Homo sapiens: one gene and its partners. The protein of the gene in region 4 purifies or fractionates together with the protein of the main gene of each other region. This does not show direct contact. Each region holds a gene or a part of one and is shown on either strand. Other genes may lie near its edges. The genes, in order: ZNF385A, DSC1, CDK5RAP2, CEP57, DHX15, PRKAR2B and HRNR.

Region 1 (3,500 bases), on a different chromosome or scaffold from region 4:
ACATTCCACCTGCACAGGGATTGGGCCCAGGAGTCCTCACTTTCATCCTGGTGTCTCCTTAGTTCCTGGAGGAGGGTGGGAAGCACCCACCTGACTCCACTGCTGCCCTCTTCCCCACTCCCCACTCCCACTCCTAGTTGGTGTTTATGGACTTAAACCAGGGGAGGGGGTTGTGCAAAAGCTAAGGTTCTCACCCTGGAGGAAGGACCCAGGTAGGGCAGGAACCATTCTCATGGTATGGATGTTGGGGTGGCCAGTCCACAAGTCATCCTCGGGGTACTGTGTCCTCAGCCCCTCTGGAGAGCAGGCTGGCATGATGGGGCAGAGCATAGGCAGAACTAGGAGACTCTGCTTCCCCCTTCCATCCCACTCCTCTCTCCCTACTGTTTTCATCCAACTTGGGTTTCCTGGCCCAACTTGAGTTTCTGTTTGAATTCCCATTCCCCACCCAGCATGTGAGGAAGCCCAGGGCTGAGGAGAACTCTGGAACAGAGTTGGGGGTCTCTAAATAGGAAGGATTAAGGCCTGGAGACTGGGAACTGAGAGCAGCAGTCTGTCTCCCCTTTCTGATTAAAGACTGTCTCCAACTTGGTCTGTCTTTCTTTCTGCCAAACACATCATACATTTACACAGATAAACACACAGCTGAAGATTACACCACCTGACCATTCATGGTGCCATCAAAGCCCCCGACGCAGAAATGTTGATATATAAATGATGTACGCACAGTACATGACACTTATTCACACTCCACCCATGCACAGATTGATCACAGCCTGCCTAACACACACAGACACACCCGTTCTCCTGTTTGGCTTTTCCCTGGATGTGACTGGGGCTTCTGGGAAGCTGAGGTAAAAAAAAGTGAGCCCTTAGAGAGGCTTCTTTCCAACCAAGAGTAGGCCAAGAGATTGACACTTGTCAGTCAGACCAGTTGTCTGAACCCAGTCCTGGTCCCTGCCTTCAGCACTACCCAAATGGAGAGTGGATGAGGCCACCATCTATTTCACAGGGATACGAAAGCCCATTTCCTGACATTAACCCCACCCAGCCAGTGAAACTACTGGTGAGAGGAAAGGAGAGTCCAGAGGACAGGGCTTTCCAGACTCTTACTACTTTCCCCCACTTCTTGTTCTCTCACCAGTGTCTCATTGGAAACCCTAAAGACCTGTCACAGAGATGGGCTCGGCTGAGGAGATAAGGACCCCAAGTCCCCAGCAACTATTTTTCACTTGATCCCTCCACCCAGAAGATAAGGTTTTGTCCTAATTCAGTCCCATTCTTATGAGAGAGCCCAGCCATCCCCCAATCTTCAGTCTCAGCTGCATTCCAGGCTTTCCTCTCCCTAGCTGCCTAGAGGCCAAAAGGGAGGAGAACTGTTGAGGGAGGCAGTTTTCACACCTCTGAGCCCCTGGTTTTCATCCCCTGATAGCAGAAAGCCTCAGAGAAACTCCCGTCCTCTCCCTTACTCATGTGAACTCTTGGCAGGAGACTGCAAAGACGTCTGCTGACCCAGGGTGGGGACAGGGATGGTTCCTAATCCCGCCCAGCCCCACAGCTCTGCCCTAGAAACCCTGATGATCAGGGAGAAAAGGTTCAGAAGATCCCTGGGCTGCCTCGGGCCAGCCCAGCTGCTTAGGTCCCCCCATTTAGTCCCCATGATTCACTAGAGCTCCTACTCTCTCCTGAGTTCTTTTACTCCCTCTAGAAGTTGCTGCCCTTAAGAGGTCCAGAGAGTGTGTGTGTTAGGGCGACCAGGGATCCAGAGTTGGGAGGCTGGGAACATCTGTCTCCTGGGACTAGAGGCTGGGCTTGGTGATAGTCTTACCCCAGAGTGGAGGCCCAAAGGGCTCAGAGGCTTCAGCTGAAGGCCCTAGGATCTAGGGTGCTTTGGGACTTCATGTCAGAGGCCTCTGGTGGATTGGCTTCACTGTAGGAGATAAGTCAAGGTGACACAGTTGTATGTTCATGGTATGATGGACCAAGGCAGGAATCCAGGTTCAGATACCAGATCTGCTATTAACTCATGGTGTGACGTTGGGCAAACCACTTCTATGTCCTGTAAAATGGGAGCATTGGGCCAGTTATCGATCAGGTCCCTTTCAGTGCTATGAAGATTGGGCTAAGAGAGAATCAGAAGACTGAGGCTCAGATCCCTCAGGCATATTAAGGGATAGAAGGGGTCTGGGGACCTTGGTTCAACACAGATATCTGTGTTGGGGGAATGCTGGACATGAGTTGCGCTAGGGTTCCCGGCTCACCCCAGCCTGCCTCCACAGATGGACCCTGTGCAGAAGGCTGTGCTCTCCCACACTTTTGGGGGACCCTTGCTCAAGACCAAGCGGCCCGTCATTTCCTGTAATATCTGTCAAATCCGCTTCAATTCTCAGGTAAGAAGCCAAGCTGCTCATCTACCCAGTGGGTGGGGCAGGGGCAGCAGGGGAACTTGAGGGAGGGCAGAGGCTGGGTGAGAACACTTACTCTGGTTGAGGGGCAGGGATTAAGGGGATATTAGGCAAAGAGCAGGGAATGGGGATACCGCAGGAGGGGCAGGGTCTTGTGGAAGGCACTGGAGAGACACAAGAAGTTGCTGTGTATTTTGACATGAAGTAGATCAGTCCTCTAAAGTTGACCTCTCCCTCCCTTGAGACTTGGGCATCCGTGGTTCAGAGCTTCTTGGAACATAGGTGGCCATCAGTGTCTGAGCAGGAGTGTGGCCTCTGGCCCACTGGTTCTTGGGTATGGGGCAGAGTTAGGTCATTGGCTCCCCCACAGAGCCTCTGTCCTCTTTGGCCTCTGCTAAACTCCTCCTTGGCCCACCCACTTCGCTCTAACTTTCTGGCTTCCTTCTCTCTCCACCCCATTTCTACTCTCCTCCCTCCAAATCACACACAAGGCCTGGCCCCTACTCTTATCCCATGGGGCTTTCCCCTGGGGAGAAGCTACCCCAAACCCAAAACCCAGATGTTCAGCCTCCCAGATTTCCTCCCTCTGAGGCTCCACTGGGACTCTGTGGAGTGTGTGTGGCTCTAGAGGGGACTTTGTGGGGTGCAGGCCCTGAGAGCTTTTGGAGAAAAACAGCAGAGCCTCGTTCTGCTGAGTAGGGGAAAATAAAAGCATGTTCTGTTTCTCTACCCAGTACAGAGACACACACACACACACACACTCCATACTACTGGGCTCTGCACACTGCTACTTTACCCCTGGGCTGTCAATCTTCTTTTCCTGCCTATCCACACCTTTTATTTCTGCCCTTGTCTGGGTGACCCTGTGCCTCCAGGATGGTACATTCTTAGCAGGGGTATACATGGGAGTGGAGCAGGGTGGGGAAGGGAAGACAGGACTAACCCAGCATCAGGCCTCTGCTTTAGCTTGGACCCCAGGCATCCTGTCTATCAACCCTGGCTCCACTCACTGGTGGATGGTGGAAGACTAGAGGGGCAGGGAGCCAACAGCAGATAGCCCTTCCCACTTTTTGCCCTACCCTCCCCTCCCCCATC
Region 2 (3,500 bases), on a different chromosome or scaffold from region 4:
CAATGGTAGCCATATTCCAGTGCTTTCTCAGAACTCTTTGCTAATACTTTGGCTCACACACTGAACTGCAAAAGTAGCATAGTAAGTTGTATTCACCTTGAGAGCCTAGTGATTTGCCCAGTATTTCCCAGCTAACTATAACTTAATACTGACACATTGAACATAATGCAGTTCCTATTTTTATACTTGAAAACATTTAATTGAATAAGCCAGAAAAATAAGTTTTCATCTCTACCCTAATGCAATTCATATGTTCTTGACAACAGGAACTGTCTCGTACTCATCTGTTGATTGCCACTATTATTGGCCTAAGACTTCACACATAGTATTTTTAGTTAAAATAGTGCCCATTATTTGTGTTTAAGAGATAATGAAGTTCAGAAACATGTCAAATCCCACCATTTGTAAAAGGATAATAAACTACAATAAATGATAAGATATCAAAATTGAAATAAACAGAAAGGTAATTGATGTAATTTTTCATGTTTTTGCTTTAAATACTGGTCCACATTTTGAAACATGTATGTTGAATTTATCATAAAGACTACTATAACTCCCATGCAAATATAATTTATTTTTCTTTTTAATTTGAAATAACCCTAAGTCATATCATGTAGTGTATTTCAAAAGAATTTTTTCTGTTGAATAACTACAAAATTAATTTATTCAGTGACTTTTAAACTAATTGTTTGTATAAAGTAACTACTATTTATGCCTATTTTAAAACTACCTGAACAAATTTAAAAATATCCAGAAATAAAAGAGAGATATAGCTATTTGTTGAAGAAATTTGCAATAGCATATAAATACTTTGAGACTGCCAGAAAATAGCAAATAAAGTTGAATATAAGTAATAACTTTAAAATCAGCAAACTAAGAAATGAATAATATGAAAAAGAGGCCTTATAAAGTAAAAAATTTAGTTGCATACACTACACATGAGTTGATATATATACTATAATTTCACCTTTTAAAATTTAAGCAGAAAGCCTTTCTCTTTATAGAAAAATCGTAAGAAAACACACTTTAAAAATCCAAAAAAAGTGGTAATTATAGTAACGCAAATCAAGATTTATTTAATCACATATTCAACCAACATTTATCCCATAACTTACTATTTTCTATTACAGTCTCTGCTTTAAGCATGTTGATAAAAACAGATGAAAGATGCTTGAAATGATTTAAATGGAAGGCAATCAAAGACAAAGCTGAGAAGGTCTTAGAACAGGGGTGTCCAATCTTTTGGCTTCCCTGGGCCACACTGAAAACAGAAGAATTGTCTTGGGCCACACATAAAATACACTAACACCAATGATAGCTGATGAGCTAAAAAATATATGTTGCAAACAAATCTTATAATGTTTCAAGAAAGTTTATGAATTTTTGTTGGGCCACATTCAAAGCCACGCTGGGCTGCATGCTGCCTGCAGGCCACAGGTTGGACAAGCTTGTCTTAGAAGATATCAAAAATTACAAGAGGTTGATGGTAAGTTTTTATTTTACCCCTGGGAAGAGGTAAACAGCCAAAAATAAGTAATTACTGATAATAGCTGAGCATGATGAAGTCATTGGTGTGTTTATTTACTTCTAAAATTTACTTTAAATTAAGCACATAAGCAAACATCAAGTATAAATGAGTAAGAAACACCAATCACAGAGCTAGAAAGTACATCTTGGGTTAACTAAAAATCTTCATAATACTTCAACAGCAATTCTGGAAAGCAGTCGTTTTTTATTGCTACTCAAATGTTTCAGTAACTAGAATCACTGTATTATAAATCAGCCTACTCTATAAATTTTAAAATTAATTGTTAAAAGATTTAAATTTTTAATTATTAAGCTACAATATGCCTCCTAATGATTTCCTGTAATTTGTTCATGTTCTTTTTGGACTATACATGCAAAATGTTTGCCACTTGTACATGACAACCCTTAAATATTTGTTCTCTTAAGAAAATCCTTCTTACAGAAGGGAAAAATAAAGAAGCACTTAATAAATGTTTAATCTCAATTTTCTACATTAAAATCAGTTTTCCCAAGTGCTAATTATGTCCCTAGAATTGTAAAGCTTTTTGCAGTGAAATGTATAACGTGGAGATTCATAGGACTCTCAAACAACAAAGGAATGACAAATATCAGCACCTGCACTGTGCATATGTATACCACATTTTCTGCCAGATACTTGGAAAGGGACGATTTACAAAGAAAAAGGGTCTTTATACAAAATTGAACTCATAATTAAGCTTGTTAGGAGAACAGAATATACATGAGAAACAATGAAAGCAGCCTTTTCTACAGAAGCCACACCATATATGATAATTGTTATCCCCAGTTCAAAAGGTATTTAGAGAAGAACTGAATCCAGACTAATGGAAACAATCACAAACCTTGTCATTGCCATTTATTTGAAGAAGTTAAGGGGCCTGAATTTCAGACAGGAGGAGCAATGCTACTCTAGGTGGAAGGTATGTAAAACAATGCTTTCTCGACTGACAGCAGGGACATCAGCCAGACTGACAGAGGATTGACACAAGAAAGAAAGTTGGATTCTAAGACAGGTAGAATACCTAGATCATCATCCAGGAATAATCATGAGCATCAGAGCAAAATGTGTGTGTGTGTGTGTGTGTGTGTGTGTGTGTGTGTGTGTGTGGATTAAAGTTCAAAGAAACAAAATCCATCATATCACTATATGGTTTTTCACTAAAATGTGTAACATCCTTATCTTTACTTTTTTATTAAACACACCCAGGTTATCTACGGCCCTGGAATGTAGATTTGTTAAAGTTTGCTTTTTATTTTCTACACTACATTCACTGTGCTTACAGACTTTGTCTTTTAGCACCAAAAAACAAAGTTACTTTTTAAATACTTTGTTCTCCATAATTTTCTCCTCTCCAGATAGCATTTTATTTTTAAAAAATTAGGCCTCTGCATTTCTGTAATCTCTTCTCTTTCATCCTTAATCTGAGCAGGTCTTAACTGATCGCCACTTCTGATAATATTCATACATTCTTTTTGAGGAAAGTTCTCACATCATAGAATCTCTTGTGAAACTATAATAATTCTATAGTTGATATCGTGTAAGAATTTGGCCTTATCTTAACATTCTTAATTTCCATGTCAGCTTGTCTAATACTTAGAACTTAATAGACAAACCACCAGTTGGGGAATAAATGAGTAAACATAAAGTCTTCTTTGCCAACATAGAAAAAAGTAGGGGTATAATATCTGAGAACACATTGTTTGCATTTTGTTATTAAAAAAAAAAACAAAGGGACAAATAAATAAGCATGAACATTTTCACTACTACCAACTTATATTAATTACCATGGAATTTCATATGTATTTATTAATACAGTCAACCATTCCTTCTAAAGAAATGCAATAGACACAGGAAAAAAAAACCCATAGCATTGTATCAGCTAGTTTGTTTTGAACATCCAGCATATGCATGTAAAAAGAGTGGAAACCTTCTTGGATTAGGCAGGTAGTCAAAC
Region 3 (3,500 bases), on a different chromosome or scaffold from region 4:
CTCAAGTCCATTTTGGAAATAGGTGGGCTACAGATATATAACAAGACAAAGGAAATATACTGAAATATTAAAAATCATCATTAGTAGGGAAATGAGAGGTTTTCTTCCTTTTTAATGTTATATAATTCTCAATTTCCTCCAATAAACATCACTAAAAGGACAAAGTCAATTTTCTAAACTGAATTTTAAAAACTAAAATCAAGTTCAACCATCACCTTTTGCAGATGGTGGTCCAGAAGCCCAAGGTCACATACACCAGGTTATTGGCCAAGCTCAGCCTAAGGTCTGGTCCTGCATTCTCAATCTGGGGTTCTCTCCGGGTACCAGAGCCATTACATTAACTCCCACTGGCTAAAACTGCCCATGAATAACTCAAGCCAAGATCAATCACAGCTGAAAAGTACCTAGCAAACAAAGCCAAAGATTCTGGTCTTAGACAAGCTTCCTACAGGCAAACACTGAAGTTTGAAAAATGACATCTGACATCCCAACTCTTAGACAAAACCACTATGTAATGCAGAAATTTTTGCTTGGATCCTGCCAAATTTCCACTCGGGCTTTACCTACCCACTTTTAAAATGCTATGAATCTGTCATCTGCACCCTCCAGTCAGTTCCAACTACACCTCCAGCCACAAGCAGCTCCCTCTTTCCATTCTAATCATTCACTTGTAGCCTTATAATTAAGGCTGGGGCCTCAGGGATACTCACGAGAAATGACAATGTAAGCAAAACAAAAGGGCTCAGATATGATCTTATTCCACAGATGAGAAGACTGAAACCCAGAAATGGGTTAGGAACTTATTTACTCAAAATCACAAAAGTTAGTGGCAAAGCCAAGCCCAAAATCCAGGATCCCAGTGTCTTTTCCACTTGCTAGCCTGTGTGTGGACTGCCCAAAGCTCCTATATAAATGTGACACATGGTGGAGTACCAGTTTCCTCACGTGCAAAATAAAGCACAATCTAAGAAACCTGCCCTTGTATGGGGCACCCATGCTGCACAAGCACCACACTCAGCACAGGACAGGCAGCCTTCCCTTTCATCCTCACCACAGGATTAAAGTCCATTTTCTAAACTGAATGTTTGAAACTAAAATCAGGTTTAATCCTCACTATAGTCTTTCTGCGGCTGGTGGTACTTTTTAATGTTGCCTTTTTTTTTTTTTTTTTTAATGAGGAAACAAAGACCAAAAAGTTAATAGGCTGGAAACTCCAAGCCAGCCTGACTTTAAACCCCCTGCTGTGAACCTACACCACCCTGGTACCCCTGACGCCTTCCCGGAGGTTGGGGGTGGCAGGGGTGTGGTGGTGGTTAAGGGCCGAATGGACTGAGGCATAAAATTTCCATCACTCAGCACAGGGCACAGCCATCATAACGACTGTTTTGTTTTGTTTTGGTTTTTTGGAGACTCTCACTCTATCGCCCAGGCTGGAGTGCAGTGGCGTGATCTCAGCTCATTGCAACCTCCACCTTCCATATTCAAGCGATTCTCGTGCCTCAGCCTCCCAAGTAGCTAGGATTACAGGCATGCACCACCACGCCCGGCTAATTTTTTGTACTTTTAGTAGAGATGGAGATTCACCACGTTGGCCAGGCTGGTCTTGAACTCCTGAGCTCAGGTGACCTGACCGCCTCAGCCTCCCAAAGTGCTAGGATTACAGGCGTGAGCCACCGCGCCCAGCTGTAGCAACTGTTTGTGGATAATTTTTGAGTGACTGAATGGACCTTCACCTGAGCTCCACCACCTCATCCTCCTATCTTGCTCTATTGCTACCGAAAAGGACTGACCTCTTTCTATGCCTACATATGCCAGCAACAATTGTCCACTCAAACCATAAGACCCAAGGGGTCTTATGTCTCCTTGACAAATTGTTTCATGAGAGTCATGGATGAGACCAGATATCACATTCTGACAACGATTACACAAACAAACTCACTTTTGTCTTTTAACAACCCCTTTTTCATTCTATTTTATTCTTAATTAGAGAAAAATACATAAATTTAAAAAAATACAGATAAGCCTAAAGTTCTCCTTGGCTCCTCCTCGCTCCCATCTAGAACCCGCCTAGGAGGTAATCACTGTTTTCAAAAAGACCTATAACTTCCAGAACTTTTTATGTGTTTTTACATAGATAGTTTCAATTTTGCTGCTTAAAAACACATGCAATCAAACAGTATACATCATGCTACAACATCCTTCTTCTACTTAATATGCCCTCATGATGTTTTCATGACAGTACAAATAGATATGCCTCAAAGTTTTCAACTCCTACAAAGCTTTCTACAGCAGTGTTCTTCAAACCTTACTGACCATGAGCCACAGAAGAAATATTATTACCCTTCATCCTTGAAATGTTTTCTATTCTGTTCTATTTTTCTAAATCCTGGTTGCAACCTACTAAATTGAATTTCATGAGCTACCAACGGGCCACAGTCTGAAAGATACTTTTGAAAGGATGTGTATTTACCCAATCCCCTACTGATGATAATTCAATTTGTTTCCAAGTTTTTCTTTTACATGCAATGTCATATGAATGTCCTTATAAGGTCCCATATGCACAAGTATGAGGATTTCTCTAGAATAGATGACAAGAAGTGGAATTGCTGGGTCAAAATATATTCACGTTTTTTAAATGGACGATGGATTTGAATACACATTTCTCCAAAGAAAGTGAACAAATGGCTAAAAGGCACATGGAAAGATGCTCAACACATCAGTAGCCATTAACATGTAATCAATACCACAATGAGGGCCAGGCGGGGTGGCTCACTCCTGTAACCCAGCACTTTGGGAGGCCAAGGCGGGCAGATCACCTGAGGTCAAGAGTTCGACACCAGCCTGGCCAACATGGTGAAACCCCGTCTCTACTAAAAATATAAAAATTAGCCGAGCATGGTGGCACGTGCCTGTAGTCCCAGCTACTTGGGAGGCTGAGGCACCAGAACCGCTTGAACCCACGAGGCAGAGGTTGCGGTGAGCCGAAATTGCGCCACTGCACTCCAGCCTGGGCAAGGGAGTGAGACTCTGTCTCAACGACAAAAAAAAAAAGACCACAATGAGATACCTACCATGTCACACCCAAAGGATGGCTATAATCAAAAGGACAATAAAAATATCAGTGAAGGGCAGGCACAGTGGCTTGTGTCTGTAATCCCAGCTCTTAGCAAGGCAGAAGCAGGAGGATCACTTGAGCCCAGGAATTTAAGACCAGCATGGGTAACAGAGCAAGACTGTCTCTAAAAAAAATTAAAAACAAAAGCCTTAAAAAGGAAAGAAATTCTGACACATACTACAACACGCATGAACCTTGAGGACATAATGCTAAGTTAAATAAACCAGTCACAGAAGGACAAATAGTGTATGATTCTACTTATACGCGACACTTAGAGTAGTCAAAATCATAGAGACAGGCTGGGCGCAATGGCACATACCTATAATCCCAGCACTCTGGGAGGCCGAGGCAGGCACAACACTTGAGGCCAGGAGTTCAAGACCAG
Region 4 (3,500 bases):
TCTAGATTGTTGAACATACTGATATGCTGGGAAGGTGCTGCACCAGAGGATACAGAAGCCCTTTCACACCTTGCCCTATGTCTCCTCCATTTGGCTGTTTCTGAGTTGTGTCCTTTATAAAACTGAAATTGCTTAAGAACAGTCTTTCCTGAGTACTGTGAGCCGTTCTTGGAAAGCTGCAGGAATCCCATAATTTGTAGTCAGCTGAGCAGAAATGCAGATGCTCTGCGAACTCTGACTGACTTGGGGGCAGGCAGTCTTGTGAAACGGAGCCCCTTAATGTATGGGGGTCTGAGCAACATCTGGGCAGTGTCAGAATTAAAATAATTGTAGTACACCCAGTTGGTGTAGAATTTTTGCTGGAGAAATTAAGTTCTAATAAAGGAGTTTTATTATGTTCAATAAATCTGTTGAATATTAACTATACATTTCCTCCGCAAAACAGGAAACTGCACATTACTTATAAAAGATTATCCTTTTCAACAAAATCACTACAACCCTTTAAGAGATCACCAAAAGCTTTTGGGCTTCTTTATATTTAACAAATAGCACAAATATCATAGGAAGGCTGCGTAGAAAGGAGCCCAATTCTAACTCCCAATCCACTAATCTCTCCATGACCCTAAGCATTCAGTAAAAATTATTCCAACCAAAATATGATTGTAGGAGAAACTTTCAGGATTAAAGGCAAAATGTTTAACCTGATCACTAGCTTTTCCTGCAGCCTTTAGTTCTTAGGGCAAATATCTCATTTAGGAACACATAATTCAAATATTTATTGAACATCTTTTTATGACACTGTGTGAAGTATGAAGCATAATTTAAAAATGCATATTACTTGCTTTCTTTATAAGTGGCACATGCAACACAGCTGCAAGATATTACCTAGATAAAACTCAAATACAAAACAGTAGGTGGGAACTGGTAAATTGGATGTAATAGAGACTAAGTGCAAATTAAATTCAGATGCATTCAACAGAACACTGCTTCAAAACAGTATGGTAAAGGAAGGTCTTTATTAGTGCTGAAATCGATACTGGGTCTTGTAGATTGACATGTATTCTGATAGGCAAGCTAGAAATGGATATAAAAGGCAATTATTTCCAGGTTAATGAATACATCAGTTTAGCTGAAAAAAAGAGTTTGTGTACACATGTTGAGGAAATAAAATTGGAGAAGTCAAGGTCCAATGGTGGAGGAACATGATGTACAGCTCTGAGCAGTGCAATCAATGCAACAGTTCCAAACTAAATATCAATACGATCGTCAACAAATGTAGAAAAGCATTCAATAAAATTCAACATCCAGCCATTATTTTTTAAAAAACTTACTTCCTTATGATAATATGAAGTTTTACAAGAAAAGATGGCAAACATACTTAATGGTGGAAAACTTGAAATATTCCTTTTAAAATCAGGAGTAAGACAAAGATACCTACATCAATTCTGGTCAACATTGTACTTCATTTCCCTAGTCTGCACACTAAGAAAAAAAAAAAGAATAACAGCTATTAAGATTGAAAAGGAAGAATCCCAATTTCGTATCATGACTAAATAGAACAAAACAAAAAATCCTCAATTATGAGAATTAAGTCTGGAAGATTGCTGAGTAAAATAGATATGTAAGAGTCAGTAATTTTATATATTAGAAAATGCAACTTATGAAAATATATATCACACAATTAAAAACTAGAAATAAACTGAACAATATACAAGACATGAAATTATACAAGTACTGAAAAATGTTAAAGTTCTAAATAAATGGAGTAACATAACATTCAGACAGAAGGGTCAATATCCTAAACGTATCAGTTACACCCAAATTAAGCTAGAAATTCAATAAAATCTAAACCAAAATTCCAACAGCAGGTTCCAGAATTTCTACTGAAGAAAAGCAAAGGACCAACAATAGCTAATATTTCTCTTGAGTAACAAGGAGGTAAATGACCCCCCCACCTCCAAGTGGGTATCTAAGTAGGAGAGACAAATACAACAAAGGGACAAAGAGCCAGGTAACACACCCATACACATATGGAAATGAACATATTGCAAACCATTGGGGATAGGATGAATTTTCAACAAGTAGTGTGGGGACAATTGTGTATTTTAAGTAAAACCGTTACACTGGATCCCTATCTCACAGCATACAAATTAATTTCAAGTAAATTAAGGACATAAAAGGCTTCAACTTTAAAATAAGTAGGAAAAAAATATAGAAGAATACAACCAAGGCCTTGGAGAAAGGAAGAATTTCTTAAACAGAAATCACTAATTATAAAAAGACTAACAAATTTTACATTAAAAGTAACAACAACTATTAATCGAAAGATATCAAAGACCAGCCAAGATGTCTCTGGAACAGTCTTAACAGACAAAAACAGGCAAAGGACATGAACAGGTATTTCACAGAAGAACACACACACACACACTAGTAAAGGTTTGAAAAAAACAGGGTGCATACTCACCAATGATAAGAGGTGCACAAATCAGAAAATAGGATACCATTTCACACACACAGCAAAAATTTACAAGTGGGACGATACCATCCATTTAAGAGGACATAAAATAAAGAGGGTTGTTGGTATAATCACTTGGTAAAACAATTTAGTATGACCGAGTAAAGCTGAAGACGCACATACTCTGTGAACCAGATAATTCATTCAGTTATATTTGCTGAACGATTTTCTCTCTCTTCTTTCTTGAAAATGATACGGGTTGAGTCACAGTACATATTCCATGACCCACTACTGAGCTGTAATCCAGAGCCCAGCCTCTGGTCTGGAAAAAAAAAAGAAAAATCACTGCCCTAGAGTTGCCCCTTGCAAACTTTTTCTCTCAGGACCCCTTTACACTCTAAAAGATCTAGTGAAAAGAATGGCACTATTTTACATTTCTGCAGATCTCTTTAATGTTTGCTTTAAAAAAAGAATGCTGGATTCTCTTATCTAGTTCTGCATTCGCTCTGTTGGATATGTTATTTTGTTTGACTTATTAAAGATCTAGTCTACCACAAACGTGGTCATTACAGAAGGATCTTGTAGACTCTGAGAGGGTCTTGGAGATCTCCAAGGGTTGTGAGACCATACTTCGAGAACTGCACTCTAGAGAAACATTTGCCATGTACAGCATATAACAATGAATACAAGATTGTTTCTAATATCTGGCAAACAAATGAACAGCAAAACCCATTAAATCCAAAGCCCATTAAGATACTGTCATTTACTAGCTAGAGAACTTTGACTCAACCTCTCTGTGCCTCATTTTGCTCATTTGAAAAAGGAAATATTAATGCCAATCTCAGAAGGTTATTGTGAGGATTAAATGAGTTAATGCATGAAAAGGGTCTTTAAGGATTATGCCTTGCCAGGTAGTCCTATATAAATACCATACATTATAATCTTAAAATACGTGGTAGTGGGTGGGTGTGGGAAGGAGAAAGAAGACACAGAGGAACATGAAGGTATTCATTTTATTATTCTCAAAAAGTAAATCTTATATTTA
Region 5 (2,790 bases), on a different chromosome or scaffold from region 4:
CAAATGTACATTTTAACACACTATACAAATTATTTTGTATACTGCATAAAACTTCCATCACTAAGAATTTTGTTAAACTGAGATCTAAAATATGCTTTCCTCTTACCTAATACTAATAAACGTGTTTGAGAAGCTAGAAGTATAATAAAAACATCTGACAAAAATGTAGTTAATAAATTATGAGCCTTATGAAAGGAACTCTAAGAAAGACAAGTAGAGAGCTCTCCTTTCATTATTCTCTCTTTTGGGGTCCAGTTTCAAATGATCACTACACACATTTTACCCCTTTTAGATCGATCACATCCTGATTAACCTAACAAAGCGCTAAGCCATGCTCTTAAAAATACTGCTTTAACAGCTACTTTTCCTAAGGAGTACTCCTGGTAGAAAGATACTAAATATGTAGTAACAGTATAATTATAATAATAAAAAAGCTCCACACTTGAAAAACAACTATACTTAGAGACTAGAACAAAGATACCAAAGGGCTTTGGCCAAAATTAGTATAAATAGACTTTATTGAAGTCAGTGCCTCTGTACTGAGACAGAAGATTGTGTCTACATAAGCACAAGTTGTAACATTTCACAACTTCTAAAAGGAATGTCAACAATTACAACGATCATGCATACCATGGTCGATAATCACATTTTAGAAGCATTTTCAACCATTTCTAAAGAAATGCTTATAACATTGTTATATATAGAACTACTTTCAATAAACTGCAAAACATTGATCGACTTTTCCAGTATGAGCTACAGTGTCAACACAAAAGGGAGGCATAAATGTTTAATTTATGAAATCAGAATGGAATATTTACTGTAAAGAAAAATTAAAAAGCTTTCAAATAAAGGCCATTATCGAACCAACGTGAAGAGCACAACTCGAACTTTTGAGTTCATTCATCTTTTAAAGCTGTCCTCTCAATAACTTCAGTTCTAAGCACTGAATTCAGTACTGTGAATATTCCTTGGATTGAAGTTTGGCAATGATGCGGTCCAACTGTCTCTTTGCTTCACACTGTGGGAAATTGCTCATGTCATAATATTGAGGGGCAATTTTCACCAACCTGTTTAGAAGTGGGCAGAAAAATTTCCAAATTAACATTTAATTGAAGTACTGGAGTTGTTAATAGGATAGGCATTATTCATTAATATACTGATGAACCAAGGCAAATCTATGAATTCAAGTCTCAGAAAAATACAAATAACTAATCCTTACAAATAGCACTTTTAGAAATGTGTTAAGTATTTTATTTAGTAAGATGTGAATTTTCTGATGTTGGACTTACCATAAACTTAATAACAAACCCCTCAAGATACATTAATGTAAAGATAACAGATAAAGTCACTGATTTCTTTACTCTGGCACACTATTAATTTGCCACTCCAAGGATATAGTAATATATAACAGGTTCTGTGTAGGAAACATCGTGGTATTCAAATGATTGGATCTTTTCATTTTCAATGTTTTAATAACTGTAACTCTATACCCCCAAAATACACTTGACTGAAATCTTTTATAAAGTTTAGCTATATAATTTTTTTCTCAACAAAGCGTTTAAGATAAAATGGTAATGTCCTACACAATTTAAGTGTCAAAAGTCCCAAATCCGTATAAGAAAGCAGCTGCACAATATAAAGCGGTGACAGCACCTAGAATATGTGCCTTCAGTCCCACTACTCTTGGCTGACATTTCCTGTCATAGGTTATAGAATAGATTCTGGCATAAATAAAACAAAAAACCATGAAGGTGAGGGTTATTTTGCTTAAAATAAAACAATCCGTTCTTACTCTACATTTTGTAGAAGCTAGTATGTTAAAACACAAAGAGCTATCATTTTTATGCCTGCACAGTTCCTAAAAACCAATATATAAATAATAAATAGTTGAGGGCTAATTGTAATGGGACAAAAAAAATGTTAAAAAACAAAACAAAACAAAAAAAAACAGATTTCTGCAAGCAAGAAACAGTACTGACTTGAGAATCACAACAGCAAGAGAATGGCTCCAAAGAAACTCTAAAAATTAAAAAAATTAAAAAAAAACCCTTTTTTAAAAGTATGTCTGAGAGACAGGGTCTCACTGTCACCCAGGCTGGAGTACAGTGGCATGATCATAGCTCACTGCAACCTCAAACTCCTGGGCTCAAGCAATCCTCCTGCCCAGCTTCCCCAGTAGCTGGGACTATAGACGTGCAGCACCACCATGCCCAGCTAATTTTTGTACACACCTATATATCTTTTAGTAGAGATGGATTCTGGCTATATTGCACAGGCTGGTCTTGAACCCCTGGCTTCAAGTGATCCTCCCATCCTGGCCTCCCAGAGTCCTGGGATTACAGGTGTGAGCCACCATGCCCAGCCCCTGAAGAAACTTTTCATGCTATTCAAATGTAACTTCACATTTGGCTTCAAATCCTGCCCATAAATATCAACAATCCCACTGTCCACTTAACAAAGGAAGGGTGTGAAAGATTAATCACACCATCCAGTCAATTCCCTCATACCTACACACTGAAATATAAATTCTCAATGAGTGAATGCAAGGCCATGACTCTAGCAACAGTCAGGTTCCATTTTGAGCAAAGTACTAACAAAAAACTGTTAGAACAAAAGGTGTACTTACCATTCTGGCTTGATATCTGTACATGTCCGGATGTAATTCTTTGTTGTTAGAACAAACTCATTATAAAGCACCCATTCAGGTTTGTGGTCAAGAACAGTAGAGGGATGCAACTGAACCACCTGGTTATCTTTCACAGTTAAGTAATGCCCTGTTCGTTCTAAATG
Region 6 (3,500 bases), on a different chromosome or scaffold from region 4:
GTCTTCCATCAAGTTGATTGATAAGGTTTAAAAGGATGGGCTAAAGAAAAGTACTTTTGTCTTCAGAATTTCCAGGTTTTTTTGTTCTTTGATTCTTTTTCAATGAAGTGAAATCTAATATTAGACTATATTTTCCTATCACTTGCTTAAGAAGAGACAATGGAAAAGAAACAAGAATGCAGTGATTTTTCTGAATTGAATGAATTGTTACTGTGTTCTTGATCCTGTTCTTGTCCTTCCTGTCTTATCTATATCATCTAGTTGTGGTTGGGACAGTCACAAAATCCTACTCTAAAAACCTCACTATGATGCTTATCATTATTTTATGAGAGCGAATTTTGTGCTTCACAAATTCAAAATGACTCAGACGGTTTCATTATGTAATTTTATGGAAAGAATTTGAGCTAAAATTTTCAGGTCATGGCTTACATGACAACAAAACAATCAAATAAGAAAATCAGAACTATAAACAGTTGGTGTAACATTTATAAATGTTTCAGCAATAGGCTCTGCCATGTGTAGCTTAATATGTTTGGAAACTAAAAAAAAAAGTCTTTCCAGTTGCTGCTGTTTAAAAATGTTTCTTAATTAAAAAAAAGACAAAAGGTCAAAATGTAAACACATGTTCCACATAAAAGTGAAGCCAAGAAGATATACTGTATACAGTTATTCCTGTATCTGTTTGACTAAGGATGACATTGTTTAATTTACATTAGCTGTTCCAAGACAAAATAGTCCATGGGAGTGATGTTGAGGGGAATTTGGGGGGTAAAAAGAGAAGGAAAAAAGCCGTTTGTTCCATTTGTTCTAATATATTTCAGTTACACCCAAAGAGCATCTTTTTCAAAGGTCATGTTGAATTAAAACATGATTCGGCTGTTTCGTTCTCATTATTATAGAAAACTAATGTCTTTTAAATGGTGTCCTTTTAGGCCGGGCACGGTGGCTCATGTCTATAATTCCCAGCACTCTGGGAGGCCGATGCGGGCGGATCACCTGAGGTCAGGAATAGGACACCAGCCTGGCCAACATGGTGAAACCCCATCTCTACTAAAAATACAAAAATTAGCTGGGCGTGGTGGCGGGCGCCTTAATCCCAGCTGCTTGGGAGGCTGAAGCAGGAGAATCGCTTGAACCCTGGAGACGGAGGTTGCAGTGAGCCGAGATTGCGCCACTGCACTCCAGCTTGGGCAACAGAGGTATACTCTGTCTCAAAAAAATAAATAAATGGTGTCCTTTTTATTTAATACTAGTTATTATTAACATTTTTGACTACTGATGTATCAGATGTGGAACAGTGCTTTACACATTGTCATCTGAACAGATGCTTTACACATATGTGATTTAGTCTTCCCCAGAGTAATTGGTGGAATCAAGGTTTGAACCTGGTAATCTGACTTCAGGGTCTTCCTCTTCAACCACGGTTTATACACTTCATTTCAGTAATTCTTTTAGCAGTAACGTGGTTGAAAATAAGCACATATCAAAAAATAAGCTACCTACTTTTCCCTCTAAAAGTTTGCAGGCTAGCCCTGCATTGATCTCTCCCTTTTACAATTTGCATTCTCTGTCTATTCAACCCAAATTAGCATTTCATGTACCTTAGAAACTCAGTACATTTGTTTATTTTATTTTATTTTGTTTTTGACAGAGTCTTGCTCTGTTGCCCAGGCTGGAGTGCAGTGGTGCCATCTTGGCTCACTGCAGCCTCTGCCTCTGGGTTCAAGTGATTCTCCTGCCTCAGCTTCCTGAGTAGCTGGGATTACAGGTGTGTGCCACCATGTCTGCCTAATTTTTGTATTTTTGGTAGAGACAAGGTTTTTCCATGTTGGCAAGGCTGGTCTGGAACTCCTGGCCTCAAGTGATCCCACCTGCCTCAGCCTCCCAAAATACTGGGATTATAGGCAAGAGCCACCACACCCAGCCTACATTTATTTATTTTAGAAATAATCACCTCATGTACTGAGCTGCTTAATTCTCTAAATTTATTTTATTATATACCTTTATTAGCAAAATATATTTGAGTGTACACCCCAATATATGTTGATAAATTTTATACATGTGACAATATATTGACTTATATGTATGATAAAGCTTCCTACAATATAAATTTTGAAAGGAGAAAGTAAAAAGCAATTCTAAGCAAGTTGTAATTTTCTCCTACATCCCAACATATAGCCTTATACACTGTTTTGGCATACATGAACCCCGTTTTGGAGACTACAGCTGTAAACAATACCACTTAAATTGATACTCTAGTAATATATAAAGTAGCCATGATCAATTTTGGTTCCCTGATTCAAGCTTCTAGATTATAAAGAGTGTGTGTGTGTGTGTGTGTGTGTGTGTGTGTGTGTGTGTGTGTCTTTTTTAAAAGACAGTCACTCGGTAAGTTAATTGACTCAACAGAAGTTGGCAGAATACAGAGGAAAATTCTATCTTATAAAAAGGAAGTAAAACTACGTTACCTGAAGGGGAAAATCCAGGCTTTTTCTTTTAAAACCTGTTTTCCTGTATATACCTTGAATTCCAATTGTATAGTGGTAATGTTTTTGGTGCAACATTTGTGGATGGGACAAAGAGAATCGTATTATAGTTTTCTGGTTAGGAATCAGTAAATTATGGAAATACCAGTCAGAATTAGAAGAAAGTCTAAAGTTTAGAATAGTTGAAAAGAAATGCAATTTCATAGAGTATTTCAGGTTATTTTGTTAGGAGAGAGATCGTTCACTATTTGCTTTCTTGTAACTTTTGAAAAATGTTTAGCATGTGCTTGGATTACCTATTAAATAAGTGTAAAAATACATGAAAGAAAGGCAATTCTTTTGTAAATATGCATTAAGTAGTAAATAAAACACAGTAGGCCGTGTGTGGTGGCTCACAGCCTGTAATCCCAGCACTTTGGGAGGCCGAGGCGGGCGAATCATGAGGTCAGGAAATCGAGACCATCCTGACTAACTTGGTGAAACCCCGTCTCTACTAAAAATACACACAAAAAAATTAGCCTGGCGTGGTGGCAGTTGCCTGTAGTCCCAGCTACTCGGGAGGCTGAGGCAGGAGAATGGCGTGAACCCGAGAGGCAGAGCTTGCAGTGAGCTGAGATCGCAGCACTGCTTGACAGAGTGAGACTCCATCTCAAAACAAAACAAAACAACAAAACAAACAAAAACCACGGTATATAGCGGCACATGACATGATTCTAAATTGATATAGCCAAATATTCTTGTCTTAAGTCATTCTCTTGGTCCTGAATTCTCACTCCCCTCTCCCTGTCTTTCTGCTAAATCTCACTCTTTTCCCAAAGGTTTAGTTTATATTTTACCCTACCAAATATTTTTGCAAGTTTCCCTCCTTGACGTTAATACTATCAATATGGTAGGATGAATATGGCCTCCATCAGTCAACTTTGCAGATGTCAAGGGTCCTCAGTCTAGGTAGGCAAGAATGTGCAGGAATATACCCTCTCTTTCTAAGTCTTTCCTGTATGTGTTGTGCTTTGC
Region 7 (3,500 bases), on a different chromosome or scaffold from region 4:
GCATGGTTCTACATCAGGACAGTCATCAACCTTTGACCAGGAGGGATCTAGCACAGGCCAGTCTTCCAGCTATGGCCACCGTGGCTCTGGCTCCAGTCAGTCTTCTGGCTATGGCCGACATGGGGCTGGATCTGGCCAGTCTCCTAGTCGCGGCCGACATGGGTCCGGTTCTGGGCACTCTTCCAGCTACGGCCAACATGGGTCTGGCTCCGGTTGGTCTTCCAGCAGTGGCCGACATGGGTCTGGCTCAGGTCAGTCTTCTGGATTTGGTCACCACGAGTCTAGCTCATGGCAGTCCTCTGGTTGCACTCAGCATGGATCTGGCTCAGGTCACTCCTCCAGCTACGAACAACACGGCTCTAGGTCAGGACAGTCATCTAGGGGTGAACGACACGGATCTAGCTCAGGTTCATCTTCCAGCTATGGTCAGCATGGGTCTGGCTCCCGTCAGTCTTTGGGCCACGGCCAACATGGGTCTGGATCTGGCCAGTCTCCTAGCCCTAGCCGTGGCCGACATGGGTCTGGTTCTGGGCAGTCTTCCAGCTACAGCCCATATGGGTCTGGCTCAGGGTGGTCTTCCAGCCGTGGCCCATATGAGTCTGGCTCCAGTCACTCTTCTGGCTTAGGTCACCGAGAGTCTCGCTCAGGACAGTCCTCTGGCTACGGTCAACATGGATCTAGCTCAGGTCATTCCTCTACCCATGGGCAACATGGTTCTACATCAGGACAGTCATCGAGCTGTGGCCAACATGGAGCTAGCTCAGGTCAGTCTTCCAGCCACGGTCAGCATGGCTCTGGCTCAAGTCAGTCTTCTGGCTATGGCCGACAGGGCTCTGGATCTGGCCAGTCTCCAGGCCACGGCCAGCGTGGGTCTGGGTCAAGGCAGTCTCCCAGCTACGGCCGACATGGGTCTGGCTCCGGTCGGTCTTCCAGCAGTGGCCAACATGGGTCTGGCTTAGGCGAGTCTTCTGGCTTTGGTCACCACGAGTCTAGCTCAGGGCAGTCCTCTAGTTACAGTCAGCATGGGTCTGGCTCAGGTCACTCCTCTGGCTACGGACAACACGGCTCTAGATCAGGACAGTCATCTAGGGGTGAACGACACGGATCTAGCTCACGTTCGTCTTCCCGCTATGGTCAGCATGGGTCTGGCTCCCGTCAGTCTTCGGGCCACGGCCGACAAGGGTCTGGATCTGGCCAGTCCCCTAGCCGCGGCCGACATGGGTCCGGTTTGGGGCACTCCTCCAGCCACGGCCAACATGGGTCTGGCTCAGGTCGTTCTTCCAGCCGTGGCCCATATGAGTCTCGCTCGGGTCACTCTTCTGTCTTTGGTCAACATGAGTCTGGCTCAGGACATTCCTCTGCTTACAGTCAGCATGGTAGTGGCTCAGGGCACTTCTGTAGCCAAGGACAGCATGGTTCTACATCAGGACAGTCATCAACCTTTGACCAGGAGGGATCTAGCACAGGTCAGTCTTCCAGCCACGGTCAGCATGGCTCTGGCTCAAGTCAGTCTTCTAGCTATGGCCAACAGGGCTCTGGATCTGGCCAGTCTCCTAGTCGCGGCCGACATGGGTCCGGTTCCGGGCACTCTTCCAGCTACGGCCAACATGGGTCTGGCTCCGGTTGGTCTTCCAGCAGTGGCCGACATGGGTCTGGCTCAGGTCAGTCTTCTGGATTTGGTCACCATGAGTCTAGCTCATGGCAGTCCTCTGGTTACACTCAGCATGGATCTGGCTCAGGTCACTCCTCCAGCTACGAACAACACGGCTCTAGGTCAGGACAGTCATCTAGGGGTGAACAACACGGATCTAGCTCAGGTTCATCTTCCAGCTATGGTCAGCATGGGTCTGGCTCCCGTCAGTCTTTGGGCCACGGCCAACATGGGTCTGGATCTGGCCAGTCTCCTAGCCCTAGCCGTGGCCGACATGGGTCTGGTTCTGGGCAGTCTTCCAGCTACGGCCCATATGGGTCTGGCTCAGGGTGGTCTTCCAGCCGTGGCCCATATGAGTCTGGCTCCGGTCACTCTTCTGGCTTAGGTCACCGAGAGTCTCGCTCAGGACAGTCCTCTGGCTACGGTCAACATGGATCTAGCTCAGGTCATTCCTCTACCCATGGGCAACATGGTTCTGCATCAGGACAGTCATCGAGCTGTGGCCAACATGGAGCTAGCTCAGGTCAGTCTTCCAGCCACGGTCAGCATGGCTCTGGCTCAAGTCAGTCTTCTGGCTATGGCCGACAGGGCTCTGGATCTGGCCAGTCTCCAGGCCACGGCCAGCGTGGGTCTGGGTCAAGGCAGTCTCCCAGCTATGGCCGACATGGGTCTGGCTCCGGTCGGTCTTCCAGCAGTGGCCAACATGGGCCTGGCTTAGGCGAGTCTTCTGGCTTTGGTCACCACGAGTCTAGCTCAGGGCAGTCCTCTAGTTACAGTCAGCATGGGTCTGGCTCAGGTCACTCCTCTGGCTACGGACAACACGGCTCTAGATCAGGACAGTCATCTAGGGGTGAACGACACGGATCTAGCTCAGGTTCGTCTTCCCGCTATGGTCAGCATGGGTCTGGCTCCCGTCAGTCTTCGGGCCACGGCCGACAAGGGTCTGGATCTGGCCATTCCCCTAGCCGCGGCCGACATGGGTCCGGTTCGGGGCACTCCTCCAGCCACGGCCAACATGGGTCTGGCTCAGGTCGTTCTTCCAGCCGTGGCCCATATGAGTCTCGCTCGGGTCACTCTTCTGTCTTTGGTCAACATGAGTCTGGCTCAGGACATTCCTCTGCTTACAGTCAGCATGGTAGTGGCTCAGGGCACTTCTGTAGCCAAGGACAGCATGGTTCTACATCAGGACAGTCATCAACCTTTGACCAGGAGGGATCTAGCACAGGTCAGTCTTCCAGCCACGGTCAGCATGGCTCTGGCTCAAGTCAGTCTTCTAGCTATGGCCAACAGGGCTCTGGATCTGGCCAGTCTCCTAGTCGCGGCCGACATGGGTCCGGTTCCGGGCACTCTTCCAGCTACGGCCAACATGGGTCTGGCTCCGGTTGGTCTTCCAGCAGTGGCCGACATGGGTCTGGCTCAGGTCAGTCTTCTGGATTTGGTCACCACGAGTCTAGCTCATGGCAGTCCTCTGGTTACACTCAGCATGGATCTGGCTCAGGTCACTCCTCCAGCTACGAACAACACGGCTCTAGGTCAGGACAGTCATCTAGGGGTGAACGACACGGATCTAGCTCAGGTTCATCTTCCAGCTATGGTCAGCATGGGTCTGGCTCCCGTCAGTCTTTGGGCCACGGCCAACATGGGTCTGGATCTGGCCAGTCTCCTAGCCCTAGCCGTGGCCGACATGGGTCTGGTTCTGGGCAGTCTTCCAGCTACAGCCCATATGGGTCTGGCTCAGGGTGGTCTTCCAGCCGTGGCCCATATGAGTCTGGCTCCGGTCACTCTTCTGGCTTAGGTCACCGAGAGTCTCGCTCAGGACAGTCCTCTGGCTACGGTCAACATGGATCTA

Evidence for each region.
Region 1: the proteins of CEP57 (region 4) and ZNF385A purify together in Homo sapiens (affinity purification with mass spectrometry, with the first as the bait; one large-scale study listed by BioGRID). This does not show direct contact.
Region 2: the proteins of CEP57 (region 4) and DSC1 purify together in Homo sapiens (affinity purification with mass spectrometry, with the first as the bait; one large-scale study listed by BioGRID). This does not show direct contact.
Region 3: the proteins of CEP57 (region 4) and CDK5RAP2 purify together in Homo sapiens (co-immunoprecipitation; 2 studies listed by BioGRID and IntAct, with this or other methods). This does not show direct contact.
Region 5: the proteins of CEP57 (region 4) and DHX15 purify together in Homo sapiens (affinity purification with mass spectrometry, with the first as the bait; one large-scale study listed by BioGRID). This does not show direct contact.
Region 6: the proteins of CEP57 (region 4) and PRKAR2B purify together in Homo sapiens (affinity purification with mass spectrometry; one large-scale study listed by BioGRID and IntAct). This does not show direct contact.
Region 7: the proteins of CEP57 (region 4) and HRNR purify together in Homo sapiens (affinity purification with mass spectrometry, with the first as the bait; one large-scale study listed by BioGRID). This does not show direct contact.

The regions. Positions count from the first base shown.
Region 1 is NC_000012.12:54,374,734-54,378,233, reverse strand, and holds part of ZNF385A (zinc finger protein 385A), read left to right. Parts: intron 1-2,279; coding exon 2,280-2,390; intron 2,391-3,500. UniProt on the Homo sapiens protein: RNA-binding protein that affects the localization and the translation of a subset of mRNA. May play a role in adipogenesis through binding to the 3'-UTR of CEBPA mRNA and regulation of its translation.
Region 2 is NC_000018.10:31,135,357-31,138,856, forward strand, and holds part of DSC1 (desmocollin-1 isoform Dsc1a preproprotein), read right to left. Parts: intron 1-3,500. UniProt on the Homo sapiens protein: A component of desmosome cell-cell junctions which are required for positive regulation of cellular adhesion.
Region 3 is NC_000009.12:120,573,668-120,577,167, forward strand, and holds part of CDK5RAP2 (CDK5 regulatory subunit-associated protein 2), read right to left. Parts: intron 1-3,500. UniProt on the Homo sapiens protein: Potential regulator of CDK5 activity via its interaction with CDK5R1. Negative regulator of centriole disengagement (licensing) which maintains centriole engagement and cohesion. Involved in regulation of mitotic spindle orientation.
Region 4 is NC_000011.10:95,793,498-95,796,997, reverse strand, and holds part of CEP57 (centrosomal protein of 57 kDa), read right to left. Parts: intron 2,778-3,500; exon of another isoform or gene 2,465-2,777; intron 1,483-2,464; exon of another isoform or gene 1,457-1,482; coding exon of another isoform or gene 1,439-1,456; intron 1-1,438. UniProt on the Homo sapiens protein: Centrosomal protein which may be required for microtubule attachment to centrosomes. May act by forming ring-like structures around microtubules. Mediates nuclear translocation and mitogenic activity of the internalized growth factor FGF2, but that of FGF1.
Region 5 is NC_000004.12:24,526,975-24,529,764, forward strand, and holds the end of DHX15 (ATP-dependent RNA helicase DHX15), read right to left. Parts: coding exon 2,627-2,790; intron 1,068-2,626; coding exon 950-1,067; 3' UTR 501-949; downstream 1-500.
Region 6 is NC_000007.14:107,051,205-107,054,704, forward strand, and holds part of PRKAR2B (cAMP-dependent protein kinase type II-beta regulatory subunit), read left to right. Parts: intron 1-3,500. UniProt on the Homo sapiens protein: Regulatory subunit of the cAMP-dependent protein kinases involved in cAMP signaling in cells. Type II regulatory chains mediate membrane association by binding to anchoring proteins, including the MAP2 kinase.
Region 7 is NC_000001.11:152,214,194-152,217,693, reverse strand, and holds part of HRNR (hornerin), read left to right. Parts: coding exon 1-3,500. UniProt on the Homo sapiens protein: Component of the epidermal cornified cell envelopes.